Linked DNA regions of Homo sapiens. The protein of the gene in region 1 purifies or fractionates together with the protein of each later gene. This does not show direct contact. Each region holds a gene or a part of one and is shown in the gene's direction. Other genes may lie near its edges.

What was found.
Region 2: the proteins of ZNF71 (region 1) and APOBEC3F purify together in Homo sapiens (affinity purification with mass spectrometry; one large-scale study listed by BioGRID and IntAct). This does not show direct contact.
Region 3: the proteins of ZNF71 (region 1) and WDR36 purify together in Homo sapiens (affinity purification with mass spectrometry; 2 studies listed by BioGRID and IntAct, with this or other methods). This does not show direct contact.
Region 4: the proteins of ZNF71 (region 1) and DDX31 purify together in Homo sapiens (affinity purification with mass spectrometry; 2 studies listed by BioGRID and IntAct, with this or other methods). This does not show direct contact.

What each region holds. Positions count from the first base shown.
Region 1 is NC_000019.10:56,597,352-56,602,955, forward strand, and holds part of ZNF71 (endothelial zinc finger protein induced by tumor necrosis factor alpha), read left to right. Parts: intron 1-4,155; 5' UTR 4,156-4,207; coding exon 4,208-4,240; intron 4,241-5,604. UniProt on the Homo sapiens protein: May be involved in transcriptional regulation.
Region 2 is NC_000022.11:39,038,562-39,043,663, forward strand, and holds the start of APOBEC3F (DNA dC->dU-editing enzyme APOBEC-3F), read left to right. Parts: upstream 1-2,302; 5' UTR 2,303-2,399; coding exon 2,400-2,416; intron 2,417-4,375; coding exon 4,376-4,529; intron 4,530-5,102.
Region 3 is NC_000005.10:111,125,796-111,130,347, forward strand, and holds part of WDR36 (WD repeat-containing protein 36), read left to right. Parts: intron 1-938; coding exon 939-1,088; 3' UTR 1,089-4,552. UniProt on the Homo sapiens protein: Part of the small subunit (SSU) processome, first precursor of the small eukaryotic ribosomal subunit.
Region 4 is NC_000009.12:132,592,497-132,595,792, reverse strand, and holds the end of DDX31 (ATP-dependent DNA helicase DDX31), read left to right. Parts: exon of another isoform or gene 1-650; intron 651-680; coding exon 681-927; 3' UTR 928-2,796; downstream 2,797-3,296. UniProt on the Homo sapiens protein: May have DNA helicase activity and RNA helicase activity. Probably have ssDNA and RNA dependent ATPase activity. Plays a role in ribosome biogenesis and TP53/p53 regulation through its interaction with NPM1.

The sequences.
Region 1 (5,604 bases):
ATATGAAGTTTCTACACCCAGGGAAACAATTCAAAGGAAGAGAAAGAAAAAATAATTAATAACTTCTACCCCCTTCTCATTCCCACTCCATGCCCTCCAGACACCAACCCAGCCTCATTCCACAGCCTTCCCCAGGCTGGAAGATGCTGTACAGATGTGTCCACATCCACATGTTTTGGTTTGTTTTTTCACAAAGGGGCTAAAGGTATGCATAAAACTGGGTAACTTGCTTTTCTCACTTAGTGAAACCACAGACATGTCAACAGATGCAGAACTAACTCTGCTTCGCAGAGGCGACCTGATACTTCATACTATGGAGACCCTACCCTCGATTTGATTCCTTTAGTAATGTTTATTAATTTTGTTTTCAGGGTTTTTTTTTGCCTCTAGAAACAATGCTGCCATAAATATCTTTTTTTCCTATATGTAACTTTTACACGGAGCTTTTATTGGTGTGGGCAGATTCCCAGGAACAGGGTTGCTGGGTTATGGGATTTGTGTATTGCCAGCTCACTTTCCAGAAAAATGTTGAGCGACTCACATTCCCTCACCAGTGTGTGAGAGGGCCTGTTCCTTTCAATCCTGGCCAGCACTAGAAGTTAGCTCATCTGTTCATTCAGCTTGATGTCTAAGTGCCTCCTGTGTGTTAGACGTTGTCCTAGATGTCGGAAATACAATCTGAAAGTGATCATCCCTGCTCCCTGGGGGCTTCTGTTCTCATGGAGGGAAGACAGATGACAAACTTGAAAACAACTATTTTAAAAAAGACAGTTGTCAATAGTGGTTTGTACTGCAAGAAAATAGAGGGGGAGAGAGTTGCTGCTTGAGGTCAGGTGATTGGGGGTAGAGGACTTCTCCAAGGAGGTGACGTTGGAGCTGACCAGGAAGCAGGGGTAGTCATGGGAAGAGCATTCCCTCCAGAGGGAACAGCAGATGCAGAGGCCAGGAGGCCTGGGGCCAAGCATGGGAGAGGGGAGTAGAGGAGATGGAAGGGGAGAGGCCATCAGGGGCACATCATAAGGGCTATGTGGGCAGCAGTGAAGACTTTGAGTGATTTCTAATGGTGGGGGAAGCCAACGAAGAGTTTTGAAGAGTTTTAGCCCAGAGGACATTTTCACTGAGTGATTACAGTTGGCCAGGTGTGGTGCCCGGGTACAGGCATTAAGTGGTAGGAACCCCCAGCCCACACCTTTGTGATCCTTTTGTTCTACAACAGGGCTTCTCAACCTCCACACTACTGACCTTTGGGCCTGATCATTCTTTGTTGTGGGGCCTGTCGCGTGCATCGTACAGTGTGTAGCAGCATCCCCAGTCTCTACCAACTAAACGCCCATAGCACTCCCCTGCCAAATTATGACAGTTTGGCAAATGTCTCTAGACGTTGACAAATGTCTCCGGGGGCAGAATTGTTCCCGATTGAGTTCCAAAGGCTTCTGCCAACTTGGCCTTATATATATGCCCCCCTACAATTAAAATTACTTTTCACTTGTGGAAGTTGGGGCCATTTGGCCTAAGAAAGGCTCTTCTTTGTCTTAGTGGTTCTTACGCTTTAAGACGTGTCAGAATCACCTGGGAAACTTGCTTAGAAATACCGATTCAGGGGCCCTACCCAGGTAGTTTGATTCAGAGGATCTGAGGTGGGGGGCAGGAATATATATTCTGAGTGAGATTTTAATAAGCATCCCCAGTGATTCTGGTACTTTGAGAATTGGTGCACCAGCTACAAGAGCATTGTGTTGGAGAGGATTGAGGCTTTTCTGGGTGATCTTGAAGGGTTGGAGATGTAGAGAGGCATGTTTCTGTTTATAGCAGAAGAAAAACTCATTTCCAGTCAGAGGTGTTGGTGGCACGGGTAGTGAGCCCCCATCACGGGAGAAGCCAGGACTGAGCCAGCATGTCTCAGACTCCAAGAATTTGTCCTCATCTGTGTCATGGATCCTATTTTTTTACTTTGCCATTTACTTGATTTGGCTCACTGATTTTTTTTTTGTTTTTAATTTAAATCAACTTAGTTTAAAAGGGTATTCTGTGTGACTGCTGTAAAAGAAGCTGAGTTTTGCTGTAAGAAGGGAAACAAACTTTAAAACAAATTGAAGTAAAGCCAGGTAGTTCTAATGAGATATTATGGTCACCCTAACTTTGGGGCCTGAACCCTGCTTTTCTTTTTAATTTTAATTTTTAATTTTTCTGGGTGTGTAGTGGGTTTATATATTTATGGAGTACATGAGATATTTTGATACGGGCATACAATGTGTAATAATCACATCAGGATAAATGGGGTATCTGTCACCTCAAGGATTTATCCTTTGTGTTACAAACAATCTGATTACATTTTTAGTGTTTTGTTTTTTTTTTTTTTTGAGATGGAGTCTCGCTCTGTCACCCAGGCTGGAGTGCAGTGTTGCCATCTCAGCTCACTGCAAGCTCCGCCTCCTGGGTTCATGCCATTCTCCTTCCTCAGCCTCCCGAGTAGCTGGGATTACAGGCACCTGCCACCACACCCGGCTAATTTTTTGTATTTTTGGTAGAGACGGGGTTTCACCGTGGTCTTGATCTCCTGACCTCGTGATCCGCCCGCCTCGGCCTCCCAAAGTGCTGGGATTACAGGCATGAGCCACTGCGCCCGGCCAGTTATTTTTAAATGTATCATTAAATTATTATTGATCATAGTCACCCTGTTGTGCTGTCAAATAGTAGGTCTTATTCATTCTTTGTGTGTGTGTTTTTTTGTTTTTTTGGGGTTTGTTTTTTTTTTTTTTTTTTGAGATGGAGTCTCGCTCTGTTGCCAGGCTGGAGTGCAGTGGTGCAATCTTGGCTCACTGCAACCCTCTGTATTTTTTTTTTTTTTTTTTTTTTTGAGACGGAGTCTCGCTCTGTCGCCCAGGTCGGACTGCGGACTGCAGTGGCGCAATCTCGGCTCACTGCAAGCTCCGCTTCCCGGGTTCACGCCATTCTCCTGCCTCAGCCTCCCGAGTAGCTGGGACTACAGGCGCCCGCCACCGCGCCCGGCTAATTTTTTGTATTTTTAGTAGAGACGGGGTTTCACCTTGTTAGCCAGGATGGTCTCGATCTCCTGACCTCATGATCCACCCGCCTCGGCCTCCCAAAGTGCTGGGATTACAGGCGTGAGCCACCGCGCCCGGCCCTCTGTATTTTTTTAATACCAATTAGCCATCCCCACATTCCCCCCACCCTTCCACTACCCTTCCCAGCCTCAGGTTTCTTCATCATTCTAGTCTCTATCTCCATGAGTTTGTTTTAATTTTTAGCTCACACAAGTGAGAACTTGCAAAGTTTGTCTTTCTATGCCTGGCTTATTTCACTTAACATAATGACCTCCAGTTTTATCCATGTTGTTGCAAATCACAGGATCTTATTCTCCTGCTTTTCTTTTGTTTCAAGGGGCGAGTGATGGGTTGCAGGGATGTTAAGATATCTCTCCACTTGAGACTTTATCCTGAGCTTGTCAGGAGAACTGGAGGAGAATTGAATCAAGATGCATTTCTCTAGGCGAATCTGGCTCTGAGAGCCCCTGGGTGGAAGTTCCTTACACTCATATCTGCTAGTTGAACCTCATGGTAACCCCATGAAGTCTGGGGGAAGTGCCCAAAGAGGCCACAGGTGGTTCTGGGGCATCTCAGGGGGCCTCAGTCCAGCACTCACACTCAAGGAGGGATCCGGGCAGGGCCATTGGGAGAAGGCAGGGTGTCCGGTGGCCCTCAGCAGCCTGCGGGAATGTGTGTGAGTGTATGTGTGTTAACCATATCTATAGGAGTGTACATGGGAGTGCATCTGTGAGGCATTGTAGCCTGGAGGCTAAGCTGTGGACCCAGACATACTCTGCCTGACTCCAGTCCCAGCTCTGTAATCTTGAGCAAGTGGTTTAATCTCCTCGGGCCTCAGCCTCCTCATCTGTGAAATGGGTAGGTAGAAGTAGTACCTACCTTCCAGGATGGTTGGAAGATCAAGTGATATACATTCAAGTTCCCTACATGCAGTAAGCCCTCTAAATACTCACTGTTGATGTATGTGTATGTGTGTCTATCTGTCTGTCTCTGCTTGTCTCTCAGTGGGTGTGTGTCTGTCCTGTCTACATTTGTGAGGCCAGCCTAGGCCTGGTCTCTCAGCATGCCTCCCTCTTTCTTCTCCCTACAGCACTGTTGGTCACCGCAGGCCTGTCTTCCTATTCACCGTGGGCAGCAGAGGGATGGCTGCTCAGCTGCTGACTGATGAGGCACTGGTGAGTCATGTTGCCCTGTCACTCTCCTTTCCAAAGGCTGGATCCTGCCTTGGGTGAGCCTCTGCTGCTCGAACCCTCTCCAAGGCCCCCAGTCCCATCTTCTGGGGCTGTGTCTGCCCTGATGAAGAGGGCTGTGCTTATAGATGATGCTGACCCTGGCTGTGGGGTCAGTTGTAGGGGACAGGGAAGCTTTGGAATGGCCAAACTAGCTCTCTGGACTCTTAGGAGACACAGGTGGGCACCTGTGGGAAGTGGTGGTTTAGACATGTGACATTGAGTGAAAACTTGCGCAGGACCATGCTGGATGTGTGACCTTTAAAATGGGCAAACACACTAAATGCTTCTTGTGAATGTGAATGCCCACATGTGTGATGAAAGTACAAAAGCTTATGGGAATGAGGCCCACAAATTCACCCATGATTTTACCCCAAAAGATAATCACTCTGGAATGTTTGAGTCTGGCTAAGCAATTTTAATGTTAAAGATTGCTTTTTCATCAGAGATTTCATCCTGAGCATTTCTCCACATCATTAAAAACTCCTTTGTAACGTCCATCTTAATGACCCCATAAAAGTGTTGTTCAGTGGCCATACCCTGGTTTACTTAATGGTTCCTCTGTTGTTGGACCTTTATTGGTTTCCAAGTATTCTTTTTTTGGTTATAAACAGTGTCATGAGGGACACTGGGCACAAATCTTTCTTTGTGTCTTATATGATTTCTTTAGGAGTGATTCCTTGAAGAGGAAGATTGGGTTGGGTATTTTTGAGGTATTTTGATATTATTTCCACATCAGTTACGGCGGTATGTATTCCCACCAGCATGTCTGAGCGGGTCTCTGATGATTTATATGGCTGTTGTCAGGCATTTATTCTGCATGTTGGATATATTTAGATTGGTGCAATATTGCACCATGATAATAAATGATAAATGGATATAAATGACAAATGCTATAAACCATGATGAGCCTGATAGGGGACAAATGGTGCCACGTGATTTATTTCTGAGTAGCATTGTTTGTATTATTAGTGAAGTTCAAGTCTTAGAAAATGTTTACTAGCCATTTCTGTGGGCAGGGAAATGATCCATCTTGTGCTTTAGCAGTCTACAGGAATCTGAGTATGCTTTAAAGACTTTACAGAAGCAAATGTGTGTGTGTAAATATTTGTGGCAAATATTCTTCCCAGATTTGCTTTTTGTTTCTTTATTTTACTTTATTTTTTCTGTATAAAAGCATTTCATATTTTTAAAATCAAATCTGTTGGTTTCTCCCACTGTGGTGTCTTTCTTCATCTTTAAGCTGTGAAAGGGTTTCTCCATCCACAGGTCACATAGCAGCTATATTTTCTTCCTTTTCACCATTTGTC
Region 2 (5,102 bases), on another chromosome or scaffold:
ATACAGGCTTAATTGTGGTACATTTAAATGTTGTCTCCACCGCAATGTGAGGACGGATTATACGGTTGCTTTTTTTTTTTTTAGATTTTTGTTTGTTTGTTTTTTGTTTTGAGATGGAGTCTCACTCTGTCTCCCAGGCTGGAGGGCAGTGGCGCGATCTCGGCCCACTGCAACCTCTGCCTTCTGGGTTCAACTGATTCTCCTGCCTCAGCCTCCCGAGTAGCTGGGATTTCAGGCACGTGCCACCACACCCGGCTAATTTTTGTAGTTTTAGTAGAGACCAGGTCTCACCATGTTGGCCAGGTTGGTCTCGAACTCCTCACTGTCATGCGTGTCTGTATAGAAAACCACCTAAACAGGCTTTGTGTAAGCAATAACGCCATTTATTCACTTGGGTGCAAGTGGGCTGAGTCTGAAAAGAGAGTCAGCGAAGGGAGATAAGAGAGGGGCAGCTTTATAGGACTTGGGTAGGTGGTGGAAAGTTACAGTCGAAGGTGGTCATCTGTTGTCAGCAGGGGAGGGGGTCACCAGGTGCATGGTGGGAGACCATGAGACCCATTGTCCAGAAGAAGAATGTCATAAGGTCGATTGATCAGTTAGGGTAGGGCAGGAACAAGTCCTAATGGTGGAATGTCTTAAGGTTGGTTAATCAGTTAAGGGAGAAACTGGCTGTTTCACTTCTTTTGTGTTTTTTTGGCTGCTCCAGACTTCTTGGCTGCTGCAGGCCATCTGGATGTATATGTGCAGTTCACAGGGGTCACAATGGCTTAGCTCCGGCTCAGAGGCCTGACACTGACCTCAGATGATCCACCTGCCTCGGCCTCCCAAAATGCTGGGATTACAGGCGTGAGCCACTGTGCCTGCCTGGGATCATATGTTACACGCATGTTTGTTCAATAAGCATGGAGTGCAGCCACCCACATGAATATTCATAGCTCCTCCTATAGCCTGTTGAATATGTATGTTTAGCCAACCCCTTCAGCATAAAGCTCCTGCCCCAACCCCTCCTGCTTCTAAATGTCTGTCTCTGGTGTTTCCCAGAGGCTGCTCTTCCCAGGCTGCGGGATGGCTACCTTGCTGCCTGTCACCCTTAACAAGAAATAAAATCTCCTTTCCAAATTTATACATTGTGGCCAGGCGCGGTGGCTCACACCTGTAATCCCGGCACTTTGGTACGCCAAGGCGGGCGGATCTCCTCAGATCGGGAGTTCGAGATCAGCTGACCAACATGGAGAAACCCTGTCTCTACTAAAAATACAAAAATTAGCCAGGCATAGTGGTGGGCGGCTGTAAGCCTGACCAACATGGAGAAACACTGTCTCTACTAAGAATACAAAAATTAGCCTAGGCGTAGGGGTGGGTGCCTGTAATCGCAGTTACATGGGAGGCTGAGGCAGGAGAATCTTTTGAACCTGGGAGGCAAAGGTTGCGGTGAGCTGAGATTACGCCACTGTACTCCAGCCTGGGTAACAGAGCAAGTCTCCGTCTCAAAACAAACAAACAAACAAAAAAACACAAAAAAACAAAAGCAAACAAAAAAACCAAATGCATCCCTTGTGTAATTTTTAGGTCACCGCGCCATGGGAACACGCTACCAGGGGAAGGGAGCTGTGAGACGCGCAGGGAGGCTCCAGACAGGCTGGCCTGGGACACCAGCCACTGCTCTTCCATGACATGGGGACAAGAGGAGGCGAGAGCTCAGCCCACCAGGGAGGAACTCCGGGCAGGAGATGGGGAAGAAGGAGAAGCAGGAAGGAAAGAGCTCAGTGTGGGGGCGCGCATGGCATCCCGGTGGGACATCTGAGGCCCACACCCACCTGCTGTCCCTCCCTCCCACGGTGGCCTCCGAGGGTGAAGGCCTGGGGAGAGGCAGACACCTGGCCCTTTACTCTCCCTCCCTGTCCCCATGGCCGCTGGGTGGGGGCCGTCTCTGGGATGATCCCCGAGGGCAGGATCCGGGAGTCCCTGCGGAGGCATCAGCCTGTCTGTCTTGATGGTGGAGAGGAGGCTCCAGCTGGGCGGGACCACCAGGGGAGGGGCTTGTGCTCTGCTGGCTCAGCCTGGTGTGGACCCACCTCGCGGGCGCTGGCTGCAATGACTTTCTCTTTCCCTTTGCAATTGCCTTGGGTCCTGCCGCACAGAGCGGCCTGTCTTTATCAGAGGTCCCTCTGCCAGGGGGAGGGCCCCAGAGAAAACCAGAAAGAGGGTGAGAGACTGAGGAAGATAAAGCGTCCCAGGGCCTCCTACACCAGCGCCTGAGCAGGAAGGGGGAGGGGCCATGACTACGAGGCCCTGGGAGGTCACTTTAGGGAGGGCTGTCCTGAAACCTGGAGCCTGGAGCAGAAAGTGAAACCCTGGTGCTCCAGACAAAGATCTTAGTCGGGACTAGCCGGCCAAGGATGAAGCCTCACTTCAGGTACCGCTGCCCGCTCTACCCGCTGGGCCCCTCTGCTGCCCCTTCCTGCCTGGTGGCTCTGCTGGGCGTCAGCCCTGGCCTCCCCCTGCCCCAGCCCCAGCCCTGGGCTCCCTCCCCTCTGGCTCCCCTGCCCCCGCCACTCCCAGCCAGGCTCTTTTTCCTGCTCTGTGGTTGCCCCACTGCTGCTTCTGAATAGGCCGCTTCCCCACCTGCCCCAGCCCAGGTGCCCTGCTGAGACTCTCCCCCGCCACCGAAAGTCATGGCAGGGCTGGTGCTCCCGGCCCTGGGAGGGTGCTCCCTCTGTGTTCTTTCCGCCATTCCTGAACTCTGGAACTGGGAGAATTGAACCAAAGGATGATTAGAGCAATGTGGAATTTTGTTCACAGTGCTTTGATGGATTTTCTGTAACATTTACTTTGCTTAAATAGCAAGTCTTAGGAGAGGGTGTGGGGAGGGAATGGTCTCTGAAGCACAAGATAAATCGTATCTTCCAAGGATGTCTCCACTGTGGGCAGAGGAGGATGCAGATGACCCCAAACACACGCTCCTCCTCCACTATCAGCATTCACTGTTTATAAATGACACGAGTAACATGGAATATAGTGGCCGGGTGCGGTGGCTCACACCTGTCATCCCAGCACTTTGGTAGGCTGAGGTGGGTGGATTGCCTGAGGTCGGGAGTTCGAGACCATCCTGATCAACATGGATAAACCCTGTCTCTACTAAAAATACAAAATTAGCCGGGTGTGGTGGCGGGCGCCTATAATCCAGCTACTCCACAGGCTGAGACAGGAGAATCGCTTGAACCCAGGAGGCGGAGGTTGCAGTGAGCCGAGATCGCCCCATCGCACTCCAGCCTGGGCAACAAGAGCCAAATTTCGTCTCAAAAGAAAAAAAAACAAAAACAAAAAACATGGAATATATGGGAAAAAAACTCAATGATCAGGAGAAATGCTATTATTTTAAAATTTAGTAAGAAGAGAGTCTGGTCCCCAATGGCTCCCTCCTGCAAGGCTGGTGACACAGAGACTGGACAGGGCTGGTCTGGTAAGAGGCCCCAGCCCCATCCGTCCCCAGCTCTGTGGCCTGGGCAGGTTACCCCATCTCTCTGCGCCTCTGGCACCTCCTCTGTAAGATGGGAATGGCCCGTGCGGGCCTAGGGCAGCCTCACATGAGCTCACATCCGCGCAGCACTTAGAAGAGTGGCCTGGGCCTCAGAATTCGGTTCTACCATGATTTAACAATAGTAATATACAGAGGTGAAATGTCAGAAGGAACTGGCTGAAAGGTTAAAATCTATTATTTTGGGGTGAATAGTTTTATTCTCTCTCTCTTTTTTTTTTTTTTTTTTGAGATGGAGTTTCGCTCTTGTAGCCCAGGCTGGAGTGCAGTGGCACGATCTCGGCTCACTACAACCTCCGCCTCCCAGGTTCAAGCGATTCTCCTGCCTCAGCCTCCACAGTGGCTGGGATTACAGGCACCCACTACCACGCTTGGCTAATTTTTATATTTTTAGTAGAGACTGGGTTTCACCATGTTGGTGAGACTGGTCTCAAACTCCTGACCTCAAGTGATGGGCCTACCTCGGCCTCCCAAAGTGCTGGGATTACAGGCATGAGCCATAATGTCCAGCCAAGAACTTTGTTCTCTTTTGCATTTTACTAATGCGTTGGAGAATGGGTGGGAGAAATACTGGGAAGGTGGGGAATGTACTCCTGGAACGACCAGAGCTGGACCCTGAGCTGGAAGAGGTCAGCCTGCCCCTGCTGCCCATGCCAGCATCCCCTTTTCTTGCTCTCTCCCCGGTCTTCCTGCCTGGGAAGGAAGCAAAAATTCTCAGGGCTGTGGAGGGGTTGGGGAGGCCCAGAGCCATGCAGGGGGCTGTGTTTAGTGGACATCAGCCCTGAGGGCTCCCGGGAGCGCTCTCTACATTGGCTGGTTTCTCTCTTGTGTCTTCAGAAACACAGTGGAGCGAATGTATCGAGACACATTCTCCTACAACTTTTATAATAGACCCATCCTTTCTCGTCGGAATACCGTCTGGCTGTGCTACGAAGTGAAAACAAAGGGTCCCTCAAGGCCCCGTTTGGACGCAAAGATCTTTCGAGGCCAGGTACCACCCGGACTTCAATCACTTTGCAGGCAGGAGCTAAGCCAGCTGGGAAAGCAAACCACGCACTGATAAGTGAAGTGCCCGGCGGCGGGCTATCCAGTGTGTCCTTCTCTCCCACACTTTCCAAGTCCGTGGCCCTGACCTTCCTGCTGGACCGTCCTGGGATCGGATCGTGGAGGGGGTTTGCCTTTGCACAAAAGGCCTTGTGTTTTTTTTTTTTTTTTTTTGAGACAGAGTTTCACTCTTGTTGCTCAGGCTGGAGTGCAATGACGCGATCTCGGCTCACAGCAACCTCTGCCTCCTGGGTTCAAGCGATGCTGTCGCCTAAGACTCCCGAGTAGCTGGGATTACAGGTGCCCACCACCACGCCCAGCTAATTTTTTTTTTTTTTGTATTTTTAGTAGAGACAGGATTTTACCATATTCACCAGGCTGGTCTCGAACTTCTGACCTCAGGTGATCCACCTGCCTCGGCCTCCCAAAGTGTTGGGATTACAGGTGTGAGCCACAGCGCCGGCCTAATTTTAATATTTAATTAATCCAATGTGGCTAACATATTACTTCAACATTAATT
Region 3 (4,552 bases), on another chromosome or scaffold:
GTAAGTCTAATGTAAGACAGTACTGCCCAGCTTGTCTTCTTCTGGGGCAGTGCTATCTAACAGAACTTTCTGCAAAGATGGGTATGCTGTATATCCATCCTTTCCAGTATCATAGCCACTTGCCACATGTAGCTATTGAGTTCTTGAAATGTAAATAGTGTGATCAAGAAACTGGATTTTTAATTTTATAGAATTTTAATTAATTTAAATTTAAATAACCGCATGTGGCTAGTGACTACCACATTGGACAGCTAGACAGTGCAGCTTGGGAGTCTTGTTTTGTTTTTTTACTCAACTGCACAATAATTTTGACTTTACCCCCTGACATTTTTATGCTATCTGCTTGATCCAATGTGCTGAACCATTAACTTTTCTTTTTTTAGTGGTTAGTTACATTTTGGAAGTTTTTTGTGATTATGAATAGAAAGTTGGGTTTGTTTGTTTTTTTTTCTACTACTGAAATCAAAATGTTCACTTCTATCATTATTAAAGGAGTTTTGATCATTTGACAATAAGACTGTTACTTTTATGATTAATATAGTGGTGAACTCATGTTTTGAGGGTCTACTTTAGTGGTATAATGTGTTGAAGGAGGTAGATGATGCCGATTTTTGGTGATAATAGATTTGATTCTTTATCCCATTTATACCTAAAATGAGTTCACTTGATCTGATTATTTAAAAGTATCAGGACTGTCCTTAGGTGGAGAGGAGTGATGACCACTTTAATTCTACCAAGGAAGTCACAGTATCATAAAGGACCTTATAATAAAAAAAGTTTGATAGAGGAGGGGAAAATGGGAGATAGTAATAAACCAGCGCTTAAGAAAACAAATATTCACCTAGTGTCTTTTGTGGTTCCTTGGTAGAAAAATTGAATCCAGATTAGGTAAAATTTTAATTTTCTTAAATGTTCAATCATCATATTTTTCTTTGCAGTTACACCTTAAAATGCTTCCTTCAGAGCCAGTACTCCTAGAAGAAATAACAAATTTGTCATCCCAGGTGGAAGAAAACTGGACCCATTTGCAATCACTCTTCAATCAAAGCATGTGTATTTTAAATTATCTCAAAAGTGCTTTGTTGTAAAAATAAATTTGTGACTAAACAAAGACTTTCATATTAAATGGGTTCAATTGAACTCATTTCTTATTTTCCAAGTGTCAATGTGAAAAGAAAATAAATGCTAGCACTACTGACTAGTCAGTATATCTCCACTTTAAATGCTAAATACTTTCTTGAAATAAAATCGCACCTCCCGGCCAGGCATGATGGATAATGCCTGTAATTCCAGCACTTTCAGAGGCCAAAGCGGGAGGATTGCTTGAAGCCAGGAATTTGAGCCCAGCCTGGGCAACATAGCAAGCAAGATCCCATCTCTACAAAAAGTTAAAAAAATAAATTACACCTGCCTTTTGTTTTGAAGACTTAAAGAATCTGCTCAAATGATTTATTTTCTGAGTCTCTTCACATTAACTTTTATATGATTTTTAAAAAATTATTACCTGCTTATATTTTTTGAGTATCTGTTTCATATAAAGAGATGCTGCATGTTCACTGTGAAGTATTGCTGAATTAAATTGAAAATGTCAGATAAAACTGATACATGATGTAGTTATAAAAATGCTGTTATGAAGAAAAAAGGAATGCTTTTTTCCTCGGTGGCCTTTGATAAAAATATGAATGATTGACTCTCAGAGTTGGAGGATAAACTAATCATCTTCTAGCACAGCCCTGTTGTGTTGCAGGAGAGGAATCAGGCTAAAGTCTGCTGGTATTTCAGTGACAGATTAAAACTTTCTAACAGTGGCCTAGTGCTTTCTCCATTGTAATGTACTGAAAGGAAGTTGTTCATGGATCAGAAATGTGGGAGGCCCTTCCTTGCCCAAGGCAAGTCGCTGTAGATGGTTAAACTGATACCAAGGATAGGTAAGGGAAATTCCAAATTCCATTGGAAGATGGCCTTTTACTGACACTGCAGACATGTAGATAACAATAGTTTAATGTCCTCTGAAAAGGTAAAAATTCCATAAATCCTTGCAAACAATTTTTAGCAATATTGTTTATTGCTACCACAGCCAAGAATGGGTATTTCAAAGCCAGGGTTTTTTTTATTTTGTTTTGTTTTGTTTTTTTTTTTTTTTTTTTGGCTACACTTTTTTGGGGGGGACCTTTTAATTTGGGAAGAAAATGCTGAGTATACTTTTCTTTCACAACCATTGCAAACCCAGGTAGCCCTGGAGTTTTCTTTTTTTCTCATCATCATTGTTTTGTTTTTTTTATGGTTCAAGACTTTTGCAATACATGAATTAAAAATAAGCAGTTCTTTAAAGCATAGCGCTCTAAAAACTATTCTTAGTTTATACCCTCAAAAGTTGGGTCTTTCATGAAACACAGTGGTTTGAATATGAACACCAGTAGCATTCTCGTTCGTTGTTAGGGTAAGAGAGTTTTGTAGAATGATCTCCAAAAGAAGCAGTCCTCAAAAGGCATTTACCAGTGATATCTTTTAATATTCATGTTTTTATTTAATGATGTAAGATAGAATTAATAAACTACTAAGGAAATAAGCCAATGTGGTTATTGTACTCAATTTCGTTTTTCTTTTAGAAATGTGTATTGACTTATTAAAGCCACTGACAGAAATGTTAATCATGACTTAAGTTCTAATTTAAAAAACTATTTTCCTCTTTCCTAAATACTATATTCTAAATTGGAATATGGCAAAATCCCAATATATAATTCTATACCTAGTAAAGATTGTAAATAACTAAAACAAAATGATAAGAGCTGTGAACTGAAATTGTATTGCTTACAGAAATCATGAACCGAATTTTCTTCTCTTTTTAAAGTGAGCATAAAGACTTAAGTGTATTGTTACCAGAGATATATTTAGATAGAATACATCATTTTGGCAGGTAATCTTCTAGAACCTTTCATGTACTGTTTCCATCAAGGGAGGGAAAGAAATAGAAAATATAATTTTATCTATATTTTCCTTAAAATATATCAATCTGTGCACACTCTTTCAGTTTTTTAATTACTCATGTAATATATGACTACATTTTGCTTGTGTGCTTTTTGAAAACCATCTTCAGTCCCAATATCCTCTGTAGAAGTAATAGTTTTAACTCTCCTAGATCTTCTTTTAGAGTGTTTTTATGAGTGTTTAATGTAGGAATGTGTATATATTATCTACAGCCACAGGAAATGTATAGTTACGATTTTTACATACGTGTATGTATATTATTGTACAACTTGCTATTTCTACTTGGGAGTTTTTTATTTTGGTACATTCACATTTACCTAATCTCTTGTGCACTGTCCAACAGTACTTTGCCTATAATAGACACTTAAGGAAGTTTTCCTTCTTTTTATTCCTTTATAATTACAAACAATGCTGAAAGGAACATCATCCTACATGAGCCCTTTTTGTACATATAAGGCTCTCTCTGTGGTATATGCTTAGGATTTGAATTTCAGGCCAGAGTATAACCATTTTTAATTTGAAGAGATACTTCCATTTGGGTTCCAGAATGGCTGTATCAAGTTACAGTTCCCCTGAGCAAGATATGAGCATCTGCTTCCCCATGTAATTAATGACACTTGCTATTGGATTTTTGTAATTTAATTACTCTGAAAAAATTATTTTGGTTTTAAATCAGAAATTTCTCACTAGTGAAGATGGACATATTTTTGTATGTTTATTTTAGAACATATAAACATTTGTTAATTTTCTTTTTCCTCTCATTTTTCTATTGAATGATTTGTCCTTTTATCTCATGGATTTGTTAGGAGTTCTCTTGTATTTTCTGTATTTTATGTCTGTTGCCAATGTTTTCTCCTACTTAGCCATTTGGCTTTAATTTTACATGGTGTCTGTTTAAATAAATGTTTTATATTTGTATACAATCAAATTGATTAATTTTCATGACTTATTTCAGGATATAAAGCAAATTATTTTCTAAGACATTTACAGTGTATGTTTTCCTATGTTTACATGTGCTCATTTCACGTCATGTATTTTCCTCTACGACATGTTTCTGTGTGAGTAGTTAACATGTAGATCTTTAGAATTGATTTTTCTGAAGAGTGAAACAGCGCTGCTTCCAATATCTGTTCAAAATTCATTTATTGAAAAGTCCACTCATATGTCTGATTTGAAATGCTGTTTCATTATGTGTTAAATTCTTTCACTGAGCTCTTCCATATTCCTAGTAAATGATGCATTACTTTGGTATGTTCTCAGATTTGGGTAAAGCCTTCCTCATGTTCTATAAAAATTGGTTAACTGCTGGTGAGCACATCTCTTGAAGTTTTGATATGGGTTGCACAACATTTATAGGACTGATTTGGAGAGACCGACAATACCGAGTGCAGTCCTCCCTTGGTATCTAGTTCCAGGACCCCTGTGGATACCAAAATCCAAGCAATGCCCTGCAGATCATGGGACCTATGCATATGAAAAGTCGGTCCTTGTATTTGAGGGTTTTGCATCCCTCAAATACCATATGTTTTATTTGTGTTTGGTTGAAAAAAGTTTGCATATAAGT
Region 4 (3,296 bases), on another chromosome or scaffold:
GACCTCCCTCTAACACCCGGGTTTGTGTGGGCTGCAGAAAGCTGCTGGTCTAATCCTAGATGCAGACATTGACCAGGCTGTGCCCTGGGTTTGGGTTTTGTAGGGTCAGAAATATGTTTAAGAGTTTTTTCCGTTCATAAAGAGCTATCTGGCTGTCATCCCAGCCTTCACTGTGGAACCCTGGAGGGCTGCGTGGAACTTGCTGGACTCTGCTCCCGCAGGGCTGAGTCCTGAAGCCCTCAGGAGCCCATGAGGAGGCCAGTTGCTTTAAGCTGCTTAGGGGTTACTGGGAAGCTGCCGTGAGCTTTCACTGCTTCATGTTGTTGAGTGTGACGGTGGGTTTTTCCCTGTCCTTTGGCAAACCGCTGTATCATACACCTCATTTGCCATCAGAGCATGAGGGTGTATAGTTCTTTTTTTCCCCATGAAAACAACACAGAACAAAGCCTCACTTTTAAAAATGCCATGATATTTTGCCGCTGTTATGAAAATCTGTCAGCGCCGTATCTAATCTTCTGGTGCATCGAATATCAAAACAAGTACTATTGAAGGGATTGTACTTCTGTTAATACAAAAATGTCAGCTTCACAGTCTCAGAACCAGCTGCTATCAGCCTCTTTCCAAATGGGAAAGAAAAATAATAAAGTTTCTTTTCCCTCTCTGCTGTTACTGTTCTTCAGGCCTGACCTTCATAAGAAGACCCAGAGTAAACACAGCCTCGCTGAAATCCTACGTTCGGAATACTCAAGCGGCATGGAGGCCGACATCGCCAAGGTCAAAAAGCAAAACGCACCTGGAGAGCCTGGTGGCCGGCCCCTGCAGCACAGTCTGCAGCCGACACCCTGCTTTGGCCGTGGGAAAACATTAAAATGGAGAAAAACCCAAAAAGGTGTACAGCGGGACAGCAAGACTTCCCAGAAAGTTTAAAATCTCTCTGGGTCTTCGAGTGGAACCTGGAAGCCCCGGGTGGCAGTGGATTGATGTCCAGTTCTTGTCAGAGGAGGCTTGTGAAAAATAACTGCGCCTTTGCCTGAATACCACGTCCCCAAGAATCAGAGGGGCCACAGCCCTTCTCCTCCATGGGAGGCCCTGGAGCCTGATAGAAATCAGTGGTGTGGGGCACTGTAGAGACTAGCCAGCTCCCGACGGAAGGGGTCTGTGTCTTGTATTGATCCCATCAGTGCCCGGCACTCCCTTCACCCAGGTGCTGACGTGCCGGGGTTGAGCTGGCACCCCGGGATGTGATGTAAGAACGCCCTGCGCGTCAGCCTGGAACGGGCTTGATTGCTGCCCTTAACTGTGTTCTGAAGTTTCACAGCTTGGCTTCAGCCTATCAGCGCATACATTGGCATGAATTTTGTGAATTAGGGTGTTAAAAACTGGAATTGAATTTGTACAAAAAGAGAATATATTTATCACTAATTATTTTCTTAATGTAGGAATGTACCGTTAAAAAGGACCAAAAGTTTTTGGTCTGGGTCAAAAAATACGAATGTGTTCTCAGGCTCGTGGTCCCTCTTATTTTCTTCTGGAAACACGAGGTTGCATTTACATGCATTGCTCCCTCTTTCATGTCCACTGAAAACTCACTCTCTCAGGGCTAATTGATTTACTGTTGGCTTTTTATTATTTGCCTTTGAAGTCAAAAGGCACCAGTATCCCAAGCTTTTTTTCCCTATCGAATCCTGTCTTGTCTTCAAGAAAGGTCTGGGGGTCTTTGTATTGTGACCCAGGCCACAGCTGCCCGCCCCCCGCCCCCGACCCACCCCGCCCTGCCCCTGCATTGTGTTTTCTGGGAGGTTTGAAAGAGGCCCCCTGGAGCATATTGATTTCCCAATAAATGTAAGATTTGGGCACTTGCAGAGGGGTCCAGAAGAGAAAGGGTTGGAGGCCTCCACACCTGTGGGCACCGCTCCTGTCCTCTCCACTGTGTCTTGCCTTCTCAGTTTCCTTCTCCTCTGCAGTGACTGTGCCGCCCTCTGTGGTCTCCCCAGGACCAGTGTTGAGGCACCACTTCAGTAGATCCCCCCAGATCCTTGGAAGGTCTGAGTGGCCACGAGAGGGTGGTGAGAGTTGGCAAGGTGGGCCTTCCTGCAGGGACCACGGGGGGTCAGCATCCTTGCCTCCGTTCTAGACACAGGTGAATGTCAGTGGGCACCCACACTGGCGGAGACTCCAGTGTGAGGGCAAGGAGGAGCCTAGTGAGACTGGATCCTCTGCAGGTGGAAAAATAGGACCTTCTCAGAGTTGGCTGTCACATACAAATTAACAGGGACTGTGGGTGACGTTTCTAACAATAATAATTAAAAAACAACAACCCTGCAGCACATGTCAGCCTGGCGTTGGGCAAGTCTGCCACCTTTCTTTTATTTCGATGTGTAATGGTTCACATGATTTGGATGAGAAAAGGAGGGATCAAACTTTATAGACAAAACCCAGCTGTGTGAAAAACAGGATTAATGCCAGTGATTGGGGATGATCAAAGAGAAACCTTACTTTTTCTCCCCCAGTACTCATTCCACTAAAGGGCGAATTGGCAGAGTTCGGCATCCCTGGGGGGAAAGAGAAGTGCTAGAATCATGCAACGTGTGAGTGACGATAATTCCAAGATCAAAACTTACACACTTAATCTGCTAACTCTTATGGTGAGGGTTTCTTGCCATAGATGCTATGTGGGTCTGTTTCTAAGTAGAATCACTATATTACCCCAGTTAATAAAGAAACATGGATTTAGCAGATTTAAGGTTAATATTGTTTAAATTTAAATAACCTTAAAATAAATCTCTTTCTCTTCTATTATGGCTCTTGACAGATTATACATTTCAGGCACCAATTAGGCAAAGCTTTAGCCTAATTCCACTGTACATATTCTAATTTTTGTGTATGTTTAATCATGCCTCTTTTTAAAATTTCCCAAACTTACTCATGTCTCTATATCATAAGCCTGGTTCCCATATTTAGAGTCACACAGAATTTGGACATTTAATAGAATGTTGCAGCCTAAAAGCGTTTCCCCCGAGTGGGCTTGTAGAATGTTTTTTTGGAAACCAAAACATCCTCATGTTTGCCACAGCCTTAGCAGTTGACGGGCCTCATTCTCACGCACTGAAGGGCAGAGACCCCTTGCTGAGAGATGAAGTCCGTGCTGATGTGCAGACAGCCCCTTGCACTCTAGAGAAGCAACGAACCAACCAAATCTCAGTAAAGGACTTTTTTTTTTTTTTTAACGAAGCCCAGTGGGTTATTTTGATTTTTTTCTTTTCCCCCTGGGGTGAAGGGAGGAGAACTTTAGGGAA